Homo sapiens: one gene and its partners. The protein of the gene in region 4 purifies or fractionates together with the protein of the main gene of each other region. This does not show direct contact. Each region holds a gene or a part of one and is shown on either strand. Other genes may lie near its edges.

Region 1 (3,500 bases), on a different chromosome or scaffold from region 4:
TTGAAGACTGTTTGTAGCTGTCGATAATTTGTAAAAACATTTCCAATGTTCTTTGAACAAAAGATTTTGATTCAGCCAAGATTACAGAAAGGAATCATGACAAAGTCCTAAGTGTACCTTTGTGTGTATTTCATCTGCTCAGCTTTTGCAGGTGACTGTGGTGGTGGTTGCCTGGATATGGAATTCCTTTGCCCTCAAATCTTCACATGCATGAAGTGCAATAAAGAATAAAATGCTGTGTTTATGTCGCACCACTTCTAAGAGGTTTAAAGCGCCGTACGAATGTTACCACATGAATCCCCACAACACCCCTGTGAGGTAGGTAGGTGGAGAGTATTGTCATCCCCACTTTACAGGTGGGAGAAATGAGGCACCCAATAGTTAATAAGAGATTTGCTCAAAATCACACAGCTAGTCACTGGCAGGGCTTAGAATAAAATGTATACTGATTAGCACCTAGCACAGTGCTTTGCACATAGTAGGTGTTCGTTTAATATCTGTGGATTTTATTTGACTTATGTCTCAACATACAATATACACACATAAAGTACAAGCAGCCACCGTAAAACATTTTTCTGATGATATCTCTCATTACTTCAAATCCTGGTGGAGGAAGGAGGTTCAAGAATCCATCTCACAATTAAGACCTCAGGGTTGAAGAGGATCATCATAAAAACTATCAGCTGACAACCAGCTCTTACACCTGCTCTACCACACAATATTATTAATAGTTTTCTAATGAAAACAAAAATGGATTTCAGGAACCATGCTGACATTATTTTTTGCCTGTTTGTTTTCAATGGAGTCATCTGAATGGTTCTGTGTTTTGTTTGTACAAAAAAGAAATAAGGCTGCTATAGTCCAGTTAGCATGTGAAAACTCTGCCAAGCACGAAGATCTCCTCCCAGCTCGGATGGATTGCTACCTGGGAAAATGGACCGACCCAGGGAGTGGCAGGTCCCAAGGAAGAGGGTCAGTGAGGCTGGACGTCACTTGCACTGTTCGTGGTCTGTATAGTCATCCATGTCCACATCCGAATCAAAGAGTGAGTGTCCAGTAAAATCTGTGTCTGGGGTTCTGGAAAAACTGTTTTCTGCTCCCTCATCTTCAAAGGTCTCTGTCCTTGAGTAAAAGCTAAAATCCAGCAGCGGGGTGTGGGTTTTGCTGCCTTCGCTGCTCTCCTCAGACTCATAGATGGTATTGTCATCATCGTGGTGCCACTCTGGCCAAAATTTCCTCCTTATCCTCTCACAGTACATGGCAAGGTTGATCAGCTCACCTGCAGTGTGGTAAGGAAAGCAAGGATTAGTTCTCAAAGGCAGCAGTCTACCACTTCTATGGTCTGTGTTGCCCCAAAACTCCAATGTTGAAATCCTGACTCCCAATGTGATGGTCTAAGGAGGTGGGGCCTTTAAGAGGTGGTTCGTTCATGAGGCCCAAGCCCTCATTCGTGGTACTAGTACCTCATAACAGAGGCCTGAGAGAGCTGCCTTCCCCCTTTTACCATGTGAGGACACAGCAAGACAGCACTGTGTCCAGGAAGCAGGAAGTGGTCCCTCCCCCAGGCAGGCCCTCGCCAGATCCTGAATGGGCCAGAGTCGTGATCCTGCATTTCCCACCATGATCCTGCATTTCCCAGACTTTTCCAGACTCCACAACTGTGAGAAATACATTCCTCTTGTTTACCAGCAAACAAGTTTATGGCATTTTGCAACAGCGGCCCAAACTATGACATCCAGCCACTAGGCTTTCTGGGAAACTGGAATAACGGGGAAGGTAAACATTAACAGTATTTTTCCATAGAGATACTGTGAAAATATTTAGGTTTTTATGCACATAATAAAAACGGTGAGTGAGAAAAGTTACATTCAGTGAGTGTGCTGAATGAAATGAAGAAGTGAGTCCGATGATGATGAGAAGTGGCAAGGTAGTTTATCCAAAATGGCAGATAAACTACCATCATTTGGCTTTAGGAAGCATTTTATTATTTTATGTTTACATATCAAGAGAGCTAATGCTGTGATTGGTTCATATATAAATTAATTTATATTCCATAAAAATACGTCAAACTGTTGGTTGCATTAAGTCAGCCAGAAGTAATCATTTACTCCACAAATTTTCGCAGTGTTGCTGTGGGCTGAGTACCATGCCAAGCAGCTGAAAAAAGTTATGTTAGGACATAAACCTTTCCCCCCAAAAAATCCATAAAATGGATAACTCAGAATTGTCTTTATGGATAAGTGTGCCTGCAAACACACTTAGTATAAGATATTTTTAAATTTTTACATGAAATTGAACAGCGGTACTCAGGATCCGGGTCCCACTCGGTCACTAGATTACTTCTTTTTTATGTGAATCAAAAGAACTCTTGTGTTAAGTCACTATTACTGTCTAGGCATTTGTCTGAAACATGCCACTCTACCTGGCCTTCATTTCCTAATTCCAAATGAAAAAGAAAGAGGGTGAGTTTCTCCCTGTGATCCAGCAGATGGCAACATTGCTTATAAATATATGATTTGCTACTATCTCTTATAGGACATTATTACTCTAAGAATGTCTTTGGATTTGAGTTATATAAACATTCACTTATTGTGTAAACAATCCATGTTTTAGTGCAGAAAATTAGAAAAAACAGATAAGCAAAAAATAAAAGCATTACCAATAATCGCATTCCCCATAACATTTTCATTTATGTTCTTCCAGAAAGGTACATATTTACATATACATTTACATATATTTACATGTGCTATATAGGATTTACTATATATTCTTTTTCCTATCCTATGTTTTTCCACTTAACAACGTATAATAAAAATCTTTGAATGTCACACTCTGATCACAGTGATAAGTGCACACTATGTTATATGGCTGTACCATAGCTTCAGTTTGTCTTTATGAATCCCCTATCACAGGTCGTTTAGGTTGTTTCCATATTAATGGTTCTGTTGATTATAGTCTGTCACTACTCTATCTTATTTTTCTGTTAAGGAAAATAACATATTCTCATTTTGGAAAATTAGAATTAGTCTGTATAGACAAACTGTACAAATACATAAAGAAGAAAACAAAAAGTACCCATGATTTCATCGATCCAAGATAATCACAATTAACATTTTGGTGTAACTTCTTTCAGTATTTTTTCTATTTACCTATTGCCATTATTATTACATATTATCTCCTGTAACATTATTGTAAACATTTTCTCATGTTAAAATTTTTCAAAACTTGATTGCTGTTTTACTTACATCCCCTGCAAAACATAACAAAGCAAATCCCCCTGCTTCATGGATCCCATGGACATGTACTGGCTCCAGGTCACCATTTCCAGTCTTCTCAAATTATAACAGCTCAACCCCCACTATGTAAAAATCTATTCTCTTCTAGAAGATATCTGTGCACATGCTCAGGAGCCAGAAACTGAGAAGTCAACACCATTGCTCCTTTTGAGGAGATGCAGCATGGAAAACCTTCACTTACTTTCTCCCTTATGGGGACAGTCA
Region 2 (3,500 bases), on a different chromosome or scaffold from region 4:
GCCATGTTAAATGAATCTCCTTAAAACTGGAATTAAAATTTGTGGATAGTGAGGATTCCTTGTAGTCAAGGAATCTATTATTTGGGATGAAATCTGAAGGGTTACATGGGAAAATAGAGTTAAAACTCCATCAAATGCTCTTTTATTCACAAATCAGAAATTTTTCAGTTTTTCAGTTTTTCAGTTTGATATATTTGTGGCTTGGTAAATTAGTAATTTAAATGGTAAAAATATAAATGACTAGAAATAATCTAAGTGTTAATAAGGAAATGTTTAAATAAATTATGATTTATGTACTTAACTATCCATTAAAATGCTTCCAAATATTTAGTAAAACAGGAAAATGCTCATGAAACATAAGTACAAATACAAAACTATATACAAAGCATGATCAGCATTTTGTTTAAAAATAGACTATTTTCAGTGCTTGCCAAATGTCAGTTATTTGTATAACACCTTCAAGATATTTGCCATATTCACACATATACATGAAATATGAGTTGGTTTTCTTTGCATTGAATTAAAAATTTAAGATTATATACTTTATTTCTGAGTATGAGATGCTATAAATTGTAAGACACACCATTTTATGTACCACTGAGAAAAAAATGCTACCCAGTAAGCTATGATCTGACACCAGTTTTAAGACACAGTCCAACATCAGCAAGATCAACGTGTATTAGAGCCAATCAAATATGGTAGCTTTTTTGGACCTTGTCTTAAGCAATAATATCCAAAAAATATAGCTTTGATTTATTCAGTGTATTTTCCAATAGGCATTAAAATAAATACCTAGTTACTAGAGTAAAAAAGATTAAAAGGTATAATCATGTAGCAAAAGTAGCATACATACTACATAGTGAATCACTGACCTATCTATATGATCAACTATGTAACTTTTAATATCAGCTATGTAAATACAGGTGCTTTATGAAAATTACCTGTTTGTACAGTTTGCTTACATATGTGTAATATGTGGAGCTGACTCTTAAATCAGAGAATAGGTTCTACATTGGGTATAGGCAAAATGTCCCTTGAAAATCTCTTAAAACCATTATATCAAGCATATGTGTTTTGTAATACACAGCCTGGTAGAGTAAGGTTTCTGAATTACTGAACTAGACTACAGGAAAAAGGAAAATCAACATGAAGTCTGGGCAATCAAACTCCTGCTTACTTGCAGAGTTTATTCCATACTATTTTAACATTTAGACATTATAACTTTAATATATGGGAATAAATTGGCTTAAAATTGTAAAGATTAAATTAGATAGTGGGAGATCTCTTATCCACTGATTAGGTTCTAAATTAAGGTTAGAGGGGAGTGAGGAAGAGGGATTGAGGTGGGACTAGTAAACATGAAAAGAAATCCAGAATGGACAAAGATACATTTTCTTTTGGGTTATTTGGTCTTGTATATTCAATATGAAAGTAAATTATTAAACCTTGGATTTCAAGAAAAATTGTTTACTGAAAATAGAGACTGAAGAGATTCTCTTCATGAAAAAAAAAAAAAGGTACTACTTTGAAGATACTATTATCTGAGGTGAGAACTTTCCATTACTTGAAAGAACTAGCTATGTGTTGCCACTTTTCAATAGGTCACAGTGTGAGATTTAACCCCACAGTCACAGTAAGTTTTAATTGTCACTCACAACAGATTATCTCAGTCGGCTTTTGAAATTCAGTGCTCACCTTTAAAGTATTTCACAGTTTTAACTCTTAATTCTAAAGTAGCATCTTCATCGCATACAAAAATAGTCCGGGGATGCTGCTGGAAAGCGGAAACAGTCCACATGTGATTGACTCCTTCTTCTATTGCTTTGTACAGGGCAAATGCCTTGTGTGCCCCTGTTATAAGGATCATTACCTGAAAAATTATGAACATCAATTGTTAAAACTTGTTCCAAATGAGTAAGAAGCTCTATTTTTTTTAAACGAGAACTTAAGCACCAATATTTTTTTCTGAGAGAAAGAAAAATACATAGCTCCACATAATAGTTCAAGGTATTCATTTCTACTTTTTAAGATTAACAAGCACAAAATGTTGCTTCTAGTTTAACAAAGCAAAACAATATCTTGTTATGGGTTATTAATGCAAACACTATAATACCTGTAACTTTTAACATAGTGAATGATGATGTATAAAAGAAACCTGGGACAATGAAGAAAAAGAAACAAAAGGACTGTGTTGCAAAAGCAGAGTTACAAATCTATAAATAATTTATACAATCTAGAATGATACACCAAGTTGCTGTAGTCTAGATAAGCAAAAGATACTATGTCAGAAAAGCAAAGACTCTAAAACAACAGGTAATTTGAAGAGTTATCAAGAAAAGCCTGAAGAGCATTTCACTGAACATGTGCTATTCAAAGTTGACTCAGAATAAAAACTGGATTTAAAAAAGGATTAGGGATCTACTTAAACATAGGAACTGTCTTATAAGCACATAGGAACTGTCTTATAATCACATATGACTGATATTACCCTTATAAGCTACAGAAAATCCAAGCTCTTGGTCCCCAGGCCCTAAATGCCAATGAAATAATGCAATGACATGTTGCAAATGTGAATGTGTATGTGTCGGAATCTTTTCTTTATCATGTTTAAGCTGGAAATTGATCCCATTTAACACCTCATCTACACACATATTTTTGTAATATAATCTTTAAACTTTTTTTCCTCATTACAATTGTTTTAAAAAACAATGTTAAAATTGCTGTAGTTCTAAAATATAACAAATTTTGTATTACATATTTTATAACTAGACCTAAAATGGGAGGAAATACTCTGCACTCTCCTTGAATTACCTCAACTCCTCAAAACACCACCATGAGAGAAATACTATTCTTACTCATATTTTAAAGATAAGGAAACTGAGGCATATTCTGTAACTGGCCCAAGGTTTTGGTAAGATACAAACAAGTAGTTTTTTTCTACAGTGCATATTCTTAGCGATTAACAATTACATTACATTGCCTCTTGTAAAAGTTCTAACAATTAGACAATATGAGCTAAGAGTCTTTTCATTATGGATGCACACTCTAAAAAGGTAATGGGACAGGTGGCAAGAAATCTCAACATGAAGTATATATACTGAGGAAAAAAAAGACAACTAAACTTTTATTGGTGAGAAAAGGTAAGTACATACCTGGCATTACCATTATGAAGGGAGTGGAGGGAAAGGAGGCTGCTGGAAGGGAAGCTTAGTATAGGATGAAGAATTCATTATTGGTGTTTATCTATGGCTAAGGCATAGATAAAACAAATTGGTCTTTAAATAGACTTGATCTGATATGTGATTAGTTATATCATACCTGTTCTACTCTCAAGGAGATTATTTCTCATATCATGGGAAAGGACAAACTATATGGAATAATTTGTTATGTTTGTTCAAACTGCAGAATCCCTAAATTTAAAGAAGCAAGCTAGGTGTGGATACCAGGTGATTCTTATGTACACTAATGTTTGACAACCAGTGCTCAGGCAGATGTTGCAT
Region 3 (3,500 bases), on a different chromosome or scaffold from region 4:
GTTCCTCGTTCACGGGAGGGGGTGCCCCAAGACCAGGAAAGAGATGGAAGCAGCAGCTCCAGGAGCCCCAGAAACCCGAGCCTGAGGGTGCCCTCATTGCTCCAGGATGGCCCTGACTCACAGCTACCCTCTCCAGCTCTGTTTCAGCCAGAAGCCACTGGAGCCCAACAACAAGGAAAGAGGAGGAGAGGGGAGGGGAGTTGAGTCCAGGCCCTGCTGGCCTTTCAAGGTGCACTGCGGGGAAGGGCTCTGCACAGGATGTGTTCAGAGAGGAGGCCTTGTCCCTGGTTTTGCTTCTCTTTTTTTTTTTTTTTTGAGATGGAATCTCACTCTGTCGCCCAGGCTGGAGTGCAATGGCGCAATCTTGGCTCACTGCAAGCTCTGCCTCCTGGGTTCATGCCATTCTCCTGCCTCAGCCTCCCGAGTAGCTGGAACTACAGGAACCCGCCACCATGCCTGGCTAGTTTTTTGTATTTTTTTTAGTAGAGACGGGGTTTCACCGTGTTAGTCAGGATGGTCTCCATCTCCTGACCTTGTGATCCGCCCGCCTTGGCCTCCCAAAGTGCTGGGATTACAGGCGTGAGCCACAGCGCCTGGCGTGGTTTTGCTTTTCAAACTCCAAGATGGGAGTAGAGGGAAACGGAGTCAAAGGAAAGAAATAGCTCTGAGTAAGGACAACTATATGGATGTTACTTATTTTTGTCTGGTTTTGAGACAGGGTCTCCCCTCTATTGCCCAGAGTGGAGTGCAGTAGTGCAATCACACCTCACTATTCAACCTCCTGGGCTCAAGCGAGCCCCTCACCTCAGCCTCCCAAGCAGCTGGAAAACAGGTGTGTGCCACCACACCTGGCTAATTTTTAATATATTTTATAGACCCGGGATCTCACTATGTTGTCCAGGCTGGTTTTGAACTCCTGGGCTCAGGTGATACACTCACCTGGCCTCCCACAGTGTTGGATTATAGATGTGAGCCACTGTGCTCCGCTTATGGGTGTTATTTCTAACGCGTGAAAAGCACACCAGGAACCAAAGAGGACAGAAGCATATCTCCACGTCTCAGAGGTGCTGGGCACCAGGCACAGCACTGGGGGGCACCAGAGGCCTCTGTTCTCCCAGTCCTGGGGCCTGGCTCCTGTGTCCACACAGGCTGAGGGATACGCCTGCCTGGGGCCTGGCTTACCTTCAGCATATGGGTGAGGTACAGGGCGATGTTCTCCAGCAGAGCCTGGTTGGGCCTCTTCCTCACGGCTTTCCGGGCTGCCATATAGAGGTTGCACTGACTGACCAAGGCCCGCATCTCTTCCATGACGGTGCGGGTGTCAACATTGTCACAGAGGGCTTTGTGAATTGCTGTCTTCTTGTCATAAAAGCTGAGCAACAAAGAGGAAGGAATGTGAAGTCAGACCTGAAAACACACCATAGAAATTCCCCATGTGGCCAGGCGCAGTGGCTCACGCCTATAATCCCAGCACTTTGGGAGGCTGAGGTGGGCGGATCACCTGAGGTCGGGAGTTCGAGACCAGCCTGACAAACATGGAGAGACCCCCACCTCTACTAAAAATCTGAAATTAGCCAGGTATGGTGGCGCATGCCTGTAACCCCAGCTACTCGGGAGGCTGAGGCAGGAGAATCGCTCGAACCCGGGAGGTGGAGGTTGTGGTGAGCCGAGATCACGCCACTGCACTCCAGCCTGGGCAACAAGGGCGAAACTCCGTCTCAAAAAGAAAAAACAAAAAAGAAATTCTCCATGCACTTCAACACCCAGAGCAGCTCCCATTAGCAGAGCCGCCTATCCTGAATTAATTCTGCACAACGTACGACAGTGTCCCCAGCCCTTCCTCGACAGTCCAGGACACATGGTGGCCAAGATGCGAGGCTAGGCATAGAACATGGGCATGCTCAAAAACCCCAAAGAAATGGCACCACCTTACTTCTTATTCAGTTCTGCTTCTTCTTCTCCCCACTTCTCAAACTGACCAGTGATGTCAACAGGAGCGCGAAGGATATCTTTCACATTTAAGAAAAACTCCTGAAGTTAGAAAAATCAGTTTAACAGCATTTAGGCAACTTTTCCATCCTGAAATATCTGTTACAACTTTCTACTGCTGTGATTTTATTTTTGGTAAAAATCTGAAAGACCAGAATTACACAAGTGGTCAGAAAGAAAGGAAAAGATATTTCTTTGACAGAAACATGCTCTTGCTTTAGGTTTACAGATGCTCATTTGGTGGAAAGTACAAGTCAGAAGGACGTGCACTGCAGTGACTAGGAGGACGAGGCCTCTGTCCACTCTGCTGAGCCGTCAGCCATTTCAGGAGTGGCCCCGAGCCTGTTATACCCACTAGCATGGAGGTGCTTCCACCCATGTGCTGGTCTCCATTAGAGACATCGGGAGGCTGGTGCACCTATCACCACTGCACAAGGTGCCCACTGTGCAGGGGAGGCTGCTCCACCAACCTCCAGGAAGGGGCTGGGGACTCACATTCAAGAACTTCTCATATTGAAGCGCTGACTCCATGGTGTTGCTGGAGTAGTCCAGGGTGTCCTTCCACGAGTGCATGAGGAAGGCCAGCCGCAACTGCCGTGCTGTGGGGGGACACAAGACAGCCAACGCCCTTATTCTCCCGAGTGCTACAGCCATTACACATGTATGAGAAGGTGGTTGGGGGGTCTGTGGGAGAAGCCAGTGTATACCTGAGTGCTTTTTCAAGGCATCTTTAATGGTGATGAAGTTTTTTAGTGACTTTGACATTTTGCAGCCTGCAATGGTCAGGTGGCCTGTGTGCAGGAAGTACCTGACCCAGCAGTCGTTTTCAAAGTAGGCCTGCGTGGAAAGAGACAAAGGATGTCAACAGTCATGTGTTACTGGGGCCGCCTCCTGCCACCTGCACTGTCTGCTGCCTTGTTGGTGCTGTCCACAGGCAGGAGCTGCGTTTTCCAGGTGGTGCAGGCAGGGCTTGGAAGGACAGCCCAGGTTAATAAGCCAGCAGGTAACACAACTGGTTCAAATCCAGGCTAGTCTGTTGCCAAAGGCCAGGCTGTCAATGCGGAAACCACACTAAATGATCAGGGTTCAGATTCCACCCACAAGCCCCGATGAAGGTGTCAAGTTCTAGTGAGAGAGGCCCTTCTGAGGCCTGGGCTGACTTTTCCTCCACTGCAGTATGAACACTGTGCTCTTGCACCTGACAAGGGGACTCTGTTTTCACCTACCTCCGACTGTGCCAGCTCATTGTCATGGTGGGGGAACCGGAGGTCGAACCCACCTCCGTGAATGTCCATCGAAGCCCCTAGGAGGGTGCCTGCCATGGCCGAGCACTCGATATGCCAGCCCGGACGACCCTGGAGAAAGCCGAACACACAGTGACTGACCAGCCTACCCGCTTGTCCAGGCCTTTATCACTTATCACTCCAAGTTGATGGCCCTTACATCCTCTGAACTTTATTGGAACAAGCGTTAAATCCCGCACATGAAAAGACTAAGGGAAGGCTGGGCGA
Region 4 (3,500 bases):
CAGAAATCCTACAGCTGGGAAGCTTATTGTTTTCTGAAATTTCCAAATTGTTTAGGTCCTAGGCTGACTGAGTACTCCCTATGACTGTGTCAGAACCAGGCCTTTGAAGATATTCACATACCTCTGGCCCGGGTACCCCTCAGAGTATTTGTTATTTAAGCAAGAGCCTAGGGCCTCCAAAACTGCTCGGCTGGCGAAATTCTCCGAGGCAATCAGCTCCAATCCAACCCTCTGCCGGTTACTCTCCTTCTTAATGATGTTGTAAACCTTATGAGAAGAAAACAGATGCTTGATATTTGGAAATTTTAGTTTAAAATTTTGCTCTGATCCAAATTACAACCTCCTAAAGAGAAAAGACACTCTTTCACATTATGGAATAGAATGAATCCTCCTCAAAGGTTTTAGTATCTGAGAAAGCACTAATCAATGAATTAACAAAAACAAAATGATAGCCAGGTGCGGTGGCTCACGACTGTAATCCCAGCACTTTGGGAGGCCGAGGCTGGTGGATCACCTGAGGTCAGGAGTTCTAGACCAGCCTGGCCAATATGGTGAAACTCCATCTCTACTAAAAATACAAAACTTGGCTGGGCGTGGTGGCTCACGCCTGTAATCCCAGCACTTTGGGAGGCCGAGATGGGCAGATCACCTGAGGTCGGGGGTTCGAGACCAGCCTGACTAACATGGAGAAACCCTCGTCTCTACTAAAAAATACAAAATTAGCCGGGCATGGTGGCACATGCCTGTAATCCCAGCTACTCGGGAGGCTGAGGCAGGAGAATCACTTGAACCCGGGAGGCGGAGGTTGCAGTGAGCCGAGATCACGCCATTGCACTCCAGCCTGGGCGACAAGAACAAAACTCTGTCTCAAAAACAAACAAACAAAAAAACAAAACTTAGATGGGTGTGGTGGCAGGCGCCTATAATCTCAGCTACTCGGGGGGCCGAGGCAGGAGAATCGCTTGAACCTGGGAGGTGGAGGATTCAGTGAGCCGAGATCGCGCCATCGCACTCCAGCCTGGGAAACAAGAGCGAGACTTCATCTCAGAAAAAGAAAAACAAAATGATTGAAGAGAAAGTTATCTTTAAGTGTCCCACCTAATTTTTAACACCACCATCCTGTTATTTTTATTCCTACATTTCACCAAGTTTCTCCCTCCCTGAACCTTATTCCTTGTTCTTCTTCCTTAAAAGAAAAGATGCTTTAGGCCGGGCGTGGTGGCTCACGCCTGTAATCCCAGCACTTTGGGAGGCCGAGACAGGTGGATCACGAGGTCAGGAGATCAAGATCATCCTGGCTAACACAGTGAAATCCCGTCTCTACTAAAAAAAAAAAAATAATACAAAAAATTAGCCAGGGCGTGGTGGCTGGCACCTGTAGTCCCAGCTACTCGGGAGGCTAAGGCAGGAGAATGGCGTGAACCCGGGAGATGGAGCTTGCAGTGAGCTGAGATCGCGTCACTGCACTCCAGCCTGAGCAACAGAGCAAGACTATATCTCAAAAAAAAAAAAAAAAAAAAAAAAAAAAAAAAAAAAAGGCCGGGTGCGGTGGCTCACGCCTGTAATCCCAGCACTTTGGGAGGCTGAGGTGGGCGGATCACGAGGTCAGGAGATCGAGACCATCCTGGCTAACATGGTGAAACCCCACCTCTACTAAAAAATACAAAAAATTAGCCGGGTGTGGTGGCAGGCACCTGTAGTCCCAGCTACTCAGGAGGCTGAGGCAGGAGAATGGCATGAACCCAGGAGGTGGAACTTGCAGTGAGCTGAGATCACGCCACTGCACTCCAGCCTGGGCGACAGAGCAAGACTCTGTCTCAAAAAAAAAAAAAAAAAAAAATTAGCCGGGCATGGTGGTGGGTGCCTGCAATCCCAGCTAGTCAGGAGGCTGAGGCTGGAGAATCCCTTGAACCCAGGAGGTGGAGGTTGCAGTGAGCCAAGATCACGCCATTGCACTCCAGCCTGGGCAACAAGAGTGAAACTCTGTCTCAAAAAAATAAATAAACAAGTAAAATAAAATAAAATAAAGGTGCTTTCAGATGTCTAGATAGATCTATATTCCCTGTGAACTGTCAGGAAAGGGTCAACTGTCAGTGATCTCTCCCCTTCTCGCTTTTCTCCAGAGCACCCTGCACAGTGCTCCACACTTTGAAGAAACCCAGCAATCTTTAAATTTACCCTCAAAGGATTTGTAGCCATTTTGTCTGCCACCACCTCTAAATCCAGCAGGATAATACTCATTTCAAGGCTGTCCCTAATTAATTTGTAATTAGAACTAAAGATTAAATGAAGGCCTCCAACATAAAAAAATCTGTGAAGACCCCAAAAATCTCACCTCAACATCACTGTCTTTGAGGGGTTGTGCCAGCATCTTGTCATGTGAGGACCACAGGTCAGCATCCTTGTGGGCCCCGTTGACTGGCATCGTCATTGCACTGGTTCGAAGCTGCCTAAAAAAATGGGAAAAACATGTGTAGCTTCCAGAATTAAATTTATTTATTTTATTTATTTTTTATTTATTTTTGAGATGTAGTCTTTGTTGCCCAGGCTAGAGTGCAGTGGCATGATCTCGGCTCACTGCAACCTCCGTCTCCCAGGTTCAAGAGATTCTCCTGCCTCAATCTTCTGACTACAGGCGCATGCCACCATGCCCGGCTAATTTTTTGTATTTTTAGTAGAGACGAGGTTTCACTGTGTTAGCCAGGATGGTCTCAATCTCCTGACCTTGTCATCCGCCCACGTTGGCTTCCCAAAGTGCTGGGATTACAGGTGTCAGCCACCGCGCCCCACCTATTTATTTTTATTTTTTTGAGACAAGACTCTCACTCTGTCACCCAGGCAATGGCGTGATCTTGGCTCACTGCAACCTCCGCCTCCTGGGTTCAAGTGATTCTCCTGCCTCAGCCTCCTGAGTAGCTGGGACTACAGGCGTGCGCCACTACGCCTGGCTAATTTGTGTATTTTTCGTAGAGATGGAGTTTTATCACGTTGGTCAGGCTGGTCTTGAACTCCTCTCAAGTGATCCGCCTGCCTCGGCCTCCCAAAGTGCTGGGATTACAGGCGTGAGCCACCATGCCTGGCCGCAGCATTATATTGAATCAAAGCTCATCGAAACCTGTTAGTTCTATCAAGTTGATAAACTAACACTTTTTTTAGCCTTTCCCTCAGAATTGCTTGGTAAACACGAGCATGTTCTATTGCAAAACCACCATGTGGAACTTCTGGTTCCTTTCCAAACTGCAGACGTCAGCTCATCTCCCTCAGAAATGAGAACTGACCCTCCTCCCCACCTGCAGGGAGCCCAACTCCGCCTCCTCTCAGCCAAACTTCTCATGGATATAGCTTATCTCCCACAACTAAACTAAGTTCCTTGAAGGTAAGGACTGAGTGCTACTTTTTAAAAAATCTCCTGCGGTACCCAACACTGCTATACATGAAGAATATTTTCCGGCCGGGCACGGTGGCTCACGCCTGCAATCCCAGCACTTTGGGAGGCCGAG
Region 5 (3,955 bases), on a different chromosome or scaffold from region 4:
AATATTGGCCGTGACGTTTACGATGGAGAGCAAAGGATCACACCTTTCCACCCCTACAAAATCTTGGCCTCGGGTGCGGTGGCTCACACCTGTAATCCCAGCAGGCCAAGGCGGGCGATCACTTGAGGTCAGGAGTTCGAGATCAGCCTGGCCAACATGGTGAAACTCTGTCTCTACCAAAAATACAAAAAAATTAGCCAGGCGTGGTGGCGGGCGCCTGTAATCCTAGCTACTTGGGAGGCTGAGGCAGGAGAATCGTTTGAACCTGGGAGGCAGAGGTTGCAGTGAGCTGAGACAGTGCCATTGCACTCCAGCCTGAGCAACAAGAGTGAAACTCTATCTCAGAGAAAAAAAAAAAAAATCTTGGCCTCTTAACTAGCTGTGTAATCTCGAGCGAGTTACTTAACTACGTTGTGCTTAATTTCCTCACCTATAAAATGAGGATAACACTACCTAAACTAAAAAGTTGTTATAAGGACTATAAGAGTTTATATATGTAAAATACCACTGCAACTGAATAAAATACCACTGCAACTGAATGTGGCCTTTGTTGAAGAAAAAACAATTGCTCCAAGTTGTTTACATTTCATTCAGTGAACTTTACTGTGCTGGGGTCTAAATAAATCACTCATGGTGAACTTCTTATCCTTTCATAGAAGAGAAACACATTTACATTTCCAGTTTTTAAAGAAGATATGACCATAATGAAGATAAGTGAGGAGTGGGTATAGGTACAGAAACAAGACTAATCAGTTGATAAGTACCTAAAGTGGGTGACAGATATAGGACCCAAGGGATCATTATACTTTTCTACTTTTGATTGTGTCTGAAATGTTTCCATAATACAAAGTTTGGTGGGGAAAAAAAAGAGACTACAGATGAGGATTTTGCTTTACGAAGGTTCCATTACCATAGGAGGACCCAACTTGGCCCAATGGAAAGCACGCAGGTCTGGACTTTGAATTCTCATTCGGTTGCTGATGAGCAAAGAGCCAACTTGCCTGCCACGATTCTCACAGGTTTCCCATGAAAACCACAGAGACAAGACGCAAAAAGACATCCGAAAATATACAGTTATGTATTTGTTAATAAAGTAAGGCATTCTTACCATCTGAACTTGTTAAACTTAGGGAAGCTGTGTACTGCTCACATAGCTGGGAACTGCACAAAGAAAAGGTAATAACCTACCTCTACATGGATCTAGAAACCAAGAAGCAAATTTTCCACATGGCAACAAAAAGCAGACAGATATCCTTCATCTCTTTCATTCTAAAATATGTTTCAGGGGTGGTCATCTCGTTCCTCCCAACTCTCACTGCCGTTTATTAAATAGCTATCCTATAGTTTTTTTCATTTTTCTACCTTTCAGTAGACTTCCTCCCTCTCCTCCCAGAATGCCACTCCTTGACATCAGCAATGGCATCCTGGTTAATCATTTCTAAGTCCCTTCTTTCCATGGCCTAGTCAGCTAATGAAGGGCTTGTGAACGTGGGAATGAATGATTTGCACCTTCATATGGTTACCAGAGATTCTAAGGGAAGGCAGGTAAATTGGAATCTTCATGATGTCGAGTTTTATTAAATCACCAGTCAAAGTAACTGAAGTTTTCCTTGCATAACAAGTGGCCCACCTAAGTTAATCTGTTTAAGGAAGGGGCTAAGACTAGTGTCCTAAAATCAGGAACAGCACGGGTTCCAATCCTACTTTTCCCTTACTCAACTGTTTAAACTTGTGCAGAAGATGCTAAATCTGTCCAGTGTGTTGTCCAGGGTCTTTCTCTGTCACCCAGGATGGAGTGCAGTAGTGCCATCTCGGCTCACCACAACCTCCGCCTCCTAGGTTCAAGCGATTCTCCTGCCTCAGCCTTCCCAGTAGCTGGGATTACAGGCGTGTGCCACCATACCGGCTAATTTTTGTATTTTTAGTAGAGACGGGTTTCACCATGTTGGCCAGGCTGGTCTCGAACTCTTGACCGTAAGTGATCAGCCCACCTCGGCCTCCCAAAGTGCTGGGATTACATGCGTGAGCCACCTAGCCCAGCCGTCCAGGGTCTTAAAAGTTGCTAAATCTCTCTGAGCCTCACTTTTTTTCCCCATAAAGTGGGGAAGTATTACACCAACCTCACAGCGCTACTGGGAGGAGTAAATAAGGCGTTTTGCTGCTGGTGCCTGGAATACAATACTTCCTGGTTAATGTGATCACACTCCTTTCTGATGGAACTAGCTATGCCTTACCTGACTGCCAGACCAGCATCCCTGAGAGCTTTTGCAGTCCCTCCGGAAGCGACCAGATTCAAACCAAGAGCGGTCAGGTTTCTTGCAAATTCCACAAGGCCGGTTTTGTCAGAGACACTAAATAAGGCTGAAAGAGAAGACATTTTTTCTCATGATTCGCAGCACATTGCACTGTGTTCTGCAAGGCCTTGGGAGGGTCTGGGGGAGGAGATTCTCGAATCGCAAGGCCAGCACCTGGACCCTGCGTTCGCAGGCCTGGTCCGGGCCTCCCCAGGTCTTACACCCGCGAGCTGCTCTAAGGCGGGCCCCACGCAGGCTGCGGCCCGGCCGGGGAGCGGGGACGCTGGCTTTCAATCCCGCAGCGCCGCCCCTGCAGTGCCGGGTCCCGCCGGCCGCCGCCAAGGCGGGAGCGTGGGGGGCCGCAGGCGAGGACGCAGACCGCGCCGCTCCGCTAGGGCCTCACCGAGCTGGCCGGGAGCCATGGCTGCAGGCACTGGGTTCAGGGCGAGCGGGAGGCAGCAGCGGCGGCACCACGTGCGCAGGTAGGAGGGCTGCCGGGATGTGGCGGCTCAGGAAGCGAGGGGGCGGAGCTGTTTCCGGGCTTATCACGTGGCCCGCCGGCCCTGCCCGGCGCCCTGCTCTGCTCAGTTTCAGATGCAAGATCCGCGCCCCGGGGCTGAAGGGAACGGCGGGATGGGGTGGGGCTCTGCCTGGCGCGCCTGGGCGGAGTGCTTGGGCTGGAAGGGATCCTGCCTGCGATCCCGAAGTCCAGGCGTGGGAGCCAGCGATCTGCCCACGACCCCAAAGTGAGGCCACTCCACGGCCTCTGGGGCAAATGCCTGTTATTCTAGGCAGCCGGTCCCCAGAAGCTGGAAAGTACGTAAAAGTGCCAGAAGCTCCCATGCTGAAAACTAAACAAAAGGAATAGTTCATATAGCGGCAAAGCTGGAAAGTATCTGGACAGTTATCTACCATCCTCCCTTTTTGTTTGTTGTTTTTTTGTTTTTCTGGGTTTTTTTGTTTTTTTTGTTTTTTTTTTTTTTTTTTGAGATGGAGTTTCGCTTTTGTTGCCCAGGCTGGAGTGCAATGGCGCGATCTCGGCTATGTCACGTGCAACCTGCAACCTCCACATCCCGGGTTCAAGAGTTTATCCTGCCTCAGCCTCCCGAGTAGCTGGAATTATAGGCAGGCGCCACGATGCCCGGCTAATTTTTGTATTTTTAGTAGACATGGGGTTTCGCCATGTTGGCCAAGCTGGTCTCAAACTCCTGACCTCAGGTGATCCGCCTGCCTCGGCTTCCCAAAGTGCTGGGATTACAGGGGTGAGCCACCATGCCCAACTTGTTTTTTGTTTGTTTGCTTGCTTGCTTGTTTGCTTGTTTGTTTTGAGACAGGGTCTCGCTCTGTCTCCCAGACTGGAGAGCAGTGGCACCATCTCAGCTCACTGCAACCTCTGCCTCCCAGGTTCAAGAAATTCTCCTGCCTCTGCCTCCACACCCGTCTAATTTTTTGTTGTTGTTGTACTTTTTTTTTTTTTTTTTTGTATATTTAGTAGAGATGGGGTTTCACGGTGTTGGCCAGGCCGGTCTTCAACTCCTGACCTCAAATGATCTGTCCACCTCAGCCTCCCAAAGTGCTGGGATTACAGGTGTGAGCCACCGTGCCCGGCCCCATCCTCCTTTTTAATAGGCTTAAAAAATAAAACCAAGGACCAATGATTT
Region 6 (3,500 bases), on a different chromosome or scaffold from region 4:
CTGATAGATCCAATGATTGAACAAGTTTTTAAAGTCTTACTTTCTACATGACTCTTGAATTTTTCTATTTCTTCCTGTTTCCACTACTGCCACTTCATCTTGCCTGAAACTTTTACAATAGCCTCCATTCTTATCTGTCCTCTCTAATTCATTACCCATCTTGAAGGCACAGTGATTTATTTTGAAACACACATTGGATTATCACTCTCCTTCTTCCTCCCCCAGTGCTTTTATGGCTTTCCATTGCTTCTAGGATCAAAATAAAACTGCTTAACAGCCTTTAGCTCTCCAGACTCATCTTGTACCATGTTCTGCATAACTCTCCAGTTCAACCATGCTGGCCTTCTTTAGTCCTTTGTATGCACCTTGCTCCCTGCCATTTTTGCAAGGCTTTTGTACATGCTTTTCTCTCTGTCTGGACCATTCTTTCTTTACTTTCATTTCATTTCACTTGTTAGTTCCTAGTCATCCTTCACACCTCAGCTGAAGTTTTGCATCCTTAGAGAATATGCTCACTTCCCACATTAAGGTAATAGCATCATACATTTCCCGCAGTTTGCAATTTACATTTATTCATGTGACTGTAAGATTTTCTTTCTGTTCAGTGGCCTATAAACTTCATGAAGGTAAGGTCCATATCTTGTTTTCTTTTTTGGCTCATTTTTGAATCCCTAGAACCTAGCTCAGTACCTGACACCTAAATTTGACTCATTAAATTTCCAAGTTAATGGTATTAAGGATTTCAGTTCATCGAGTTTTGTAATACAAGAATTTGAATATGAATTTTTATAAAAATAGTGTTAAAATGGTAGTACAGTTTGAACATTCCTAATCCAAAAACTTGAAATCCAAAATGCTGCAAAATTCAAAACTTTTTTGAGCCCAACATGATGCTACAAGTACATAATTCTACACCCAACTTTATGTGATGAATCAAAGTCAGAATGCAGGTGTACAACAGTTTCTCCAAGAGAAAAAAGACCTGCCTAGCCCCCTTCAGCTGCCATATATCTTTTCCTCACACAGCCAGATGCACCTACGCAAGCATGCCCGCAAAGGGCAATACAATGCCATGTGTATGTGTAAGAAATGATTGGTTATACGTAGCATATAAATTCAGAGACGGGAATGATAGTGATGTCAAACAACCACAGACTGTCCACATGAGTGGCTGAGATAGTGACACCTTTGCTTTTGGATGGTACAGTGTATACAAACTTTGTTTCATGCAAAAAATTATTAAAAGTATTATATAAAATTACCTTCAAGCTATGTGTATAAGGTGTATATGAAATGTAAATGAATTTTGTGTTTACACTTGGGTCCCTTCCTGAAGATACCTCATTATGCATATGGAAATATTCCAAATGCCAAAAAAATCTGAAATCCAAAACATTTCTAGTCTCAAACATTTTGGAAAAGGGATAATCAACCTGTAATTAAATTTTCAGTTTGACTATTTCTTTCAAGTGTATGGAAATAAATTATTAGGCCGGGCACAGTGGCTCACGCCTGTAATCCCAGCACTTTGGGTGGCCGAGGTGGGTGGATCACTTGAGGTTGGGAGTTCAAGACCAGCCTGGCCAACATGGTGAAACCCTGTCTCTACTAAAAAATATACATATACAGATTAGCTGGGCGTGGTGACCTGCACCTGTAATTCCAGCTACTTGGGAGGTTGAGGTGGAAGATCGTTTGAACCTGGGAGGCAGAGGTTGCAGTGAGCCGAGATCGTGCCTCTGCACTCCAGCCTGGGCGACAGCAAGACTCCGTCTCAAAACAAAAAATGTGTTATTAGTAGCTATATAAAATATAGCAATATAGCACAGTATTCTTACACTATTTTGTAATAGACCCTTTTATTTTTGGATGGTTTTAGTTTTACAGAATTACTGTGAAGATAGAATAGAGCTTCCCATACCCACTTTCCCCTATTATAAGATAGGCTGTGCACAGTGGCTCATGCCAGTAATCCTAGCACTTTGGGAGGTCAAGGCAGGTGGATTGCTTCAGCTCAGGAGTTCAAGACCAGCCTGGGCAACATGGTGAAACCCCATCTCTACCAAAAATACAAAAAATTAGCTGGGCATGGTGGTGCCCATCTGTGATCTCAGCTACTTGGGAGGCTGAGGTGGGAGGATTACTTGAGCCCAGGAGGCGGAGGTTGCAGTGAGCAGAGATTATGCCACGGTACTCCATCCTGGATGACAGAGCGAGACTCCATCTCAAAAAAACAAAAACAAAAACATACTACATTAGCATAGTACATTTGTCACAATTAACCAATATTGGCACGTAATTATTAAAGTCCATATTTTATTCAGATTACCTCACTTTTCCCCAATGTCTTTTTTTTTTTTTTTTTTTTCTGTTCAAGGATCCCATCTAGGATAGCATATTACCTTTAGTGGTCATGTATCCTTTCATTTTGACAGTTTCTCAGATTTCCTTGTTTTTGATGACAAGTTGATAGTTTTGAAGATTACTGCCTGGTCAGGTATTTTGTAGACTGTCCCTCAGTTGGGACTTGTCTGCTGTTTTTCTCATTAGACTGGGTGATATGTTTCTAGGAGGAAGATCACAGAAGTAAAGTGCCATTCCCATCACATCATATCAAGAATACAGACTTTTTTTTTTTTTTTTTTTTTTTTTTTTGAGGTAGAGTCTCACTCTGTTGCCCAGGCTGGAGTGCAGTAACGCAATCTCGGCTCACTGCAACCTCCACCTCCTGGGTTCAAGCGATTTTCCTGTCTCAGCCTCCCAAGTAGCTGGGTCTACAGGTACATGCCACCATGCCCGGCTAATTTTTGTATTTTTAGTAGAGAGAGGTTTCACCATGTTGGCCAGGCTGGTCTTGAACTCCTGACCTCAGGTGATCCACACACCTCAGCCTCCCAAAGTGTTGGGATTACAGGCGTGAGCCACTGTACCTGGCCAAGAATACAAACTATTAATATGACAGTACCATTGATATTAACCTTGACTACTTGGCTTGAGATAATGTTCATCAGTTTTGTCCACTGTAAAGTTACTCTGTTTTCCCCCTCCTTTTGTATATTGTACTTTTTAGAAGAAAGTCTCTCTGTGAAGCACACAATTGGGAATTGGGGAATTATGCTTTACCTCTTTAAGGGTGAAGTGTCTACATAAATTTTTGAAAAATCTTCTATAAGAGTTTTTTGTCTATTCTCCCCTTTCAGTCGTTTATTTATATCAGTCTGACTCATGGATATTTATTTTATACTTAAGGGTAAATCCAGTAGTACTTTATTACTTTGTTGCTCAAATTGTTTCAGCTGTGGCCACTGGGAGCTCTTTTAGTTGGTTCCTGTATTCCTTTGACATACTCCTGTCATTGTGAGACTTTTGTTCTTGTTTTGTTTGTTTGTTTGTTTTTGAGCACTTTTAACTTTCTGGTATTACAAAATGCTCTAGGCTCACCTTGTGTATTACCTACCACAGGCCTAGAATCAGCCTTTTCTCCAAGGAGCACTGATTCC
Region 7 (3,500 bases), on a different chromosome or scaffold from region 4:
CAGAGATGCCTTCTCCCCCCGGACCCCTAGCTTCTGGCCTGGGGCTGTGGCAGAGATGGAGAATGCTGCATACCCAGGGTGCACAGGGTCCTCAGAGCCGTCGCCTGCAGGGCTTCGTGAAAGATGGCCACAGCCCCCAGCTCACCCTCCAGGGATGTGGGGCTGCCCCACCGAGTGTCCTGGGTGCCTGCGAGGGTAGAGTCGATGCTGCCCTCCTGCAGGGGGGCCACCAGCCCGGACCCCCAGCCAAGCCCTGTGGAGGCTGGGACTGACTGGGAGCGGGTGAGGGCGGGGTGAGTGTAGGCCAGGGTGGCGGGGACTGGTGGTGTGGGCAGCCCTGTGGTGGTGGTCGTTGTGCGGTATCCAGCGGAGCCGATACAGCAGGAGGAGAAAGGCTGTGGGGCCGGGGTTGGGGGAGCGGTCAGGTCACAGCAGAACCTGGGGCTCCGCCTACAACCAGTTCCTCACAGTGACCCCCATGGCTGCATGGACCCCAGTGGCTAAAGTCAGGCCTGTGGGGCAGCACGGGACACAAGGGCTCCAGGCTACACCTGCCCACTGTGTTCCAAGTCCTCCCATCTACCCAAGGCCTCCCCAAACCTTGCTTGGCACACCTCACTGAGGGAGGGGCAGCGAAGGGGTGCTGTCTTGACCAGATGGCCGTCTTTGTAGACATGGACCAGGTTCTGGCTGAAGGGCCGGCGCCCAGGCACATGGACGATAGCCACGCAGTGCTAGAACAGAAGCCTCACATTAGGCCATACTTGGGACTCAGCACCCCTCTCTCTACTGGGCCACATGAGAAGGATGGGGTCTCACCCAGGCAGAGTCGGCAAAGGACACTTCGGGCAAACTCATGGTCAAATACTCCTTCCGTGTGCACACAGCCACCACCAGGGTCCCGGCCGCCGTGAAGAAGGCCTCAAACCCTGAGCCGCTGCTGGTAAAGAAGCTGGGGGCAGGCAAGCCAGTTATGTCTGCTTGTTCCTGCTCACCCTGGCAGGAGGTCCCTGGCCCCTGGCAGTCACCCACCTGTACAGCTGCTTTCGCTGGAGTGGTCGGGTGGGGGCAGGGGTAGGTGCTGTATCCATAGGGTGCAGACAGAGCCAGGCATGAAAGGTGAAGCCAGGCCCTGGCCATCGCTGTACAGGGGGTACCATGATGCCCGCCATGCTGGGCGTGAGGTCAAAGTAGCGCAGAGCACGTGCAGGACCCTGGTGCCTGGCCATGCCTGATAATGTGCGGATGACAGCACCTGCGTGTCGGGCCTTTCCAGCCTCAGCTCCGCCTGGTTCCGAGTCCAATCCTGGCCGGGGGCGCAGCAGGTGACGCAGCTCCATGGGCCTTATTGATACACGGCCCAGTGCTTGTAGCAGTGCCAGCAGCTGCTCTTGGCAGCGGGCCTCCAGGGCTAGCCCTGTGCTGAGTGTCTCCAACAGGCAGCCCACCAGGCCTGCCTGCACACAGGTGGCACGGCTGGCAGGGCAGCTGTCACAGAGCCACCTGAGGCGTTGCGCTAGGAAGAGCCGCAGCTCAGCGGTGGGCAATGACGGCAGCCACTGCGCCAGCACCAGTACCGGCTGCTCGTTGCGGATTGGTGGAGGTGGGCACATGCTGTGGTCACCCTCCACAGCCTGTGGGTGGAGAGAATGACAGTCCCTGGTCAGCTGTGGCACCCTGTCAACAGTGGGACTTTCTGGCTCCATTTACTTGCCTACGGCAGCAGTCAGCAACATGATCTACTCCATCCTGCCCACAGGTTGTGTGTGAGGCTCAGGAAAGTCAGAGGGGCACAGATGACAGTCACTACTACTAAGAGTCCTTCAGCATTGTTAATCCCTCAACCTTAGTTTTCAGCCTGGGTTGGCCTAACCCCTAACTGCATGTTCCTAAGATAATCCTGGGGCTTGCTCACATGCAGTTGCTTCCAGGACCCCTACAGGGCCAGAATCCTCATTCCAGTGACACTAACAGACATGGCCAGGCTACAGGTAACAGTATGTACTGGCCGCAGTCAATACGGTCCCCCAGGGTGGAGAGCTCACCATCTGTGGTAACCCTGACTCAGTTCTGGTTGCCTTTGGGACCCTGGTCCCAAGCCCCTTCCCTCACCATGTTGAGCAGCTCTTGCAACAGCCGATGGGTGGGGGGACCATGGCTCTGCAGAACCTCCTGCAGGTGAGGGTAGCCGATGCGCTCCTTAAACACCTCCTGTGTAAGGTAGTATGGGGAAGAAGTGAACACATACATGGGCCGGAGGGCAAACTCAGACCCCCTGGAAACTCTGGAGGGGCATCATGTTTTGGGGTTCCCTTGCGTAGCTCTGCCTCTGGGTGACAGTGCTGGTGGGCAGTGGGCTGCAGAGGGATGGGGGGGACGTGAGTACATCTCAGAAGGCTGTAGATGGAGGTGGGCCTACAAGTGTCCATTCCCCATCCAGCCCTGACAGAGAAGATGCAGCTCCCAGGACAGACTGGCGACCACACCTGCCCAGTGAGCTTTAGGGCAGGGCAGTCACCTCCCAGCTCGCCTGCTTTGCTCCAGGGAGCAGGATGCTTATGGCCACCGGCCAGGCCTGTTCTGGGGATATGGTCAGTTGAACTCCACCCCGCACCCCTACTAAAGCTGCAGTGCAGCAGCCTCACCTTGGCCGAGGGGGAGTCACTCATGATGCAGGTCAGCACTCTGACTACATGGACTGCAATGGCGTCTGTGTCTTGGTCCAGGACCTTGGGGTGGGGAGGGGCCATCAGGAGAGGCAGGGGCCAGGGTGTCACAGCTGGCAGCCCCCTGCAGTAAAAAAGGTGCAGAGCCAAGCACCCCAAGGCATGTGGCATGTGCTGGATCAGCAACTCTGTCAGAGCACCAGGCCTTCTACTCCTTGCCCCAACTGCTGTGACCCTATCATGACCTAGGGCCCTCTCTGAGCAGCTCAGCAAGACCCACTCTAACAAAGGCTGGGAAGGGCCTCACTGGGACAGATTAATGGTGGACACTCTGACTGCACCCTCCAGTCCCCCTTTCTCTAGTGGAGTTAGGGCCCTACCCCCAACCTGTCTCCCTAAAGCTAGACACATGAGTACAGACAGGCCAGCAAGTGCCCCATCACCCACAGTGATTGACAGGGGTCAGAGATTTAGGGACAATCAATCACAGGATGTTAGAACCAGAAGAACCTTCGAGACCTTTAAGTCCCACCTTGCCCCTTCCCCCTAGATCCAGGTGGGGGCACTGAGGCTCAGCCTGGCTGAACCTGACAGCCAGAGGCATGCTGCTGCCTCTCCTGCCCCACCCTGAGGGGGTCAGGGGTTGGGAGGGCTTGGAGAGTTTCTCAGCAGGGACTAGGTCATATTCGGCTCCATGGGGCCTTTGGTCCCAGCTTTGCCTGACTCCCCAAGTGACCTAAGGCATCAGTCCTCCCCCTCCAGGCCTCAGTGTCCTCATCTGTAAAAACAGAGGGGAGTCACTTTGCCCTGCCTGCTTTGCAGATGAATAGACGT

What was found.
Region 1: the proteins of SHMT1 (region 4) and FAXC purify together in Homo sapiens (co-immunoprecipitation; one large-scale study listed by IntAct). This does not show direct contact.
Region 2: the proteins of SHMT1 (region 4) and GNPDA2 fractionate together in Homo sapiens (co-fractionation; one large-scale study listed by BioGRID). This does not show direct contact.
Region 3: the proteins of SHMT1 (region 4) and CARS1 fractionate together in Homo sapiens (co-fractionation; one large-scale study listed by BioGRID). This does not show direct contact.
Region 5: the proteins of SHMT1 (region 4) and ATIC fractionate together in Homo sapiens (co-fractionation; one large-scale study listed by BioGRID). This does not show direct contact.
Region 6: the proteins of SHMT1 (region 4) and ARFIP1 fractionate together in Homo sapiens (co-fractionation; one large-scale study listed by BioGRID). This does not show direct contact.
Region 7: the proteins of SHMT1 (region 4) and NBEAL2 purify together in Homo sapiens (tandem affinity purification; one large-scale study listed by IntAct). This does not show direct contact.

Annotation. Positions count from the first base shown.
Region 1 is NC_000006.12:99,280,175-99,283,674, forward strand, and holds part of FAXC (failed axon connections homolog), read right to left. Parts: intron 1,280-3,500; coding exon 990-1,279; 3' UTR 1-989. UniProt on the Homo sapiens protein: May play a role in axonal development.
Region 2 is NC_000004.12:44,706,057-44,709,556, forward strand, and holds part of GNPDA2 (glucosamine-6-phosphate deaminase 2), read right to left. Parts: intron 1,871-3,500; coding exon 1,696-1,870; intron 1-1,695. UniProt on the Homo sapiens protein: Catalyzes the reversible conversion of alpha-D-glucosamine 6-phosphate (GlcN-6P) into beta-D-fructose 6-phosphate (Fru-6P) and ammonium ion, a regulatory reaction step in de novo uridine diphosphate-N-acetyl-alpha-D-glucosamine (UDP-GlcNAc) biosynthesis via hexosamine pathway.
Region 3 is NC_000011.10:3,015,924-3,019,423, forward strand, and holds part of CARS1 (cysteine--tRNA ligase, cytoplasmic), read right to left. Parts: intron 3,345-3,500; coding exon 3,216-3,344; intron 2,827-3,215; coding exon 2,697-2,826; intron 2,618-2,696; coding exon of another isoform or gene 2,589-2,617; coding exon 2,485-2,588; intron 2,032-2,484; coding exon 1,934-2,031; exon of another isoform or gene 1,933-1,933; intron 1,373-1,932; coding exon 1,183-1,372; intron 1-1,182. UniProt on the Homo sapiens protein: Catalyzes the ATP-dependent ligation of cysteine to tRNA(Cys).
Region 4 is NC_000017.11:18,353,551-18,357,050, forward strand, and holds part of SHMT1 (serine hydroxymethyltransferase, cytosolic), read right to left. Parts: intron 2,451-3,500; 5' UTR 2,432-2,450; coding exon 2,336-2,431; intron 268-2,335; coding exon 122-267; intron 1-121. UniProt on the Homo sapiens protein: Interconversion of serine and glycine.
Region 5 is NC_000002.12:215,310,904-215,314,858, reverse strand, and holds the start of ATIC (bifunctional purine biosynthesis protein ATIC), read right to left. Parts: upstream 2,801-3,955; 5' UTR 2,717-2,800; coding exon 2,698-2,716; intron 2,563-2,697; exon of another isoform or gene 2,469-2,562; intron 2,362-2,468; coding exon 2,235-2,361; intron 1-2,234. UniProt on the Homo sapiens protein: Bifunctional enzyme that catalyzes the last two steps of purine biosynthesis.
Region 6 is NC_000004.12:152,786,454-152,789,953, forward strand, and holds part of ARFIP1 (arfaptin-1), read left to right. Parts: intron 1-3,500. UniProt on the Homo sapiens protein: Plays a role in controlling biogenesis of secretory granules at the trans-Golgi network. Mechanistically, binds ARF-GTP at the neck of a growing secretory granule precursor and forms a protective scaffold.
Region 7 is NC_000003.12:46,993,166-46,996,665, reverse strand, and holds part of NBEAL2 (neurobeachin-like protein 2), read right to left. Parts: intron 2,791-3,500; exon of another isoform or gene 2,751-2,790; coding exon of another isoform or gene 2,730-2,750; coding exon 2,646-2,729; intron 2,212-2,645; coding exon 2,113-2,211; intron 1,635-2,112; coding exon 1,033-1,634; intron 953-1,032; coding exon 820-952; intron 735-819; coding exon 615-734; intron 396-614; coding exon 74-395; intron 1-73. UniProt on the Homo sapiens protein: Probably involved in thrombopoiesis. Plays a role in the development or secretion of alpha-granules, that contain several growth factors important for platelet biogenesis.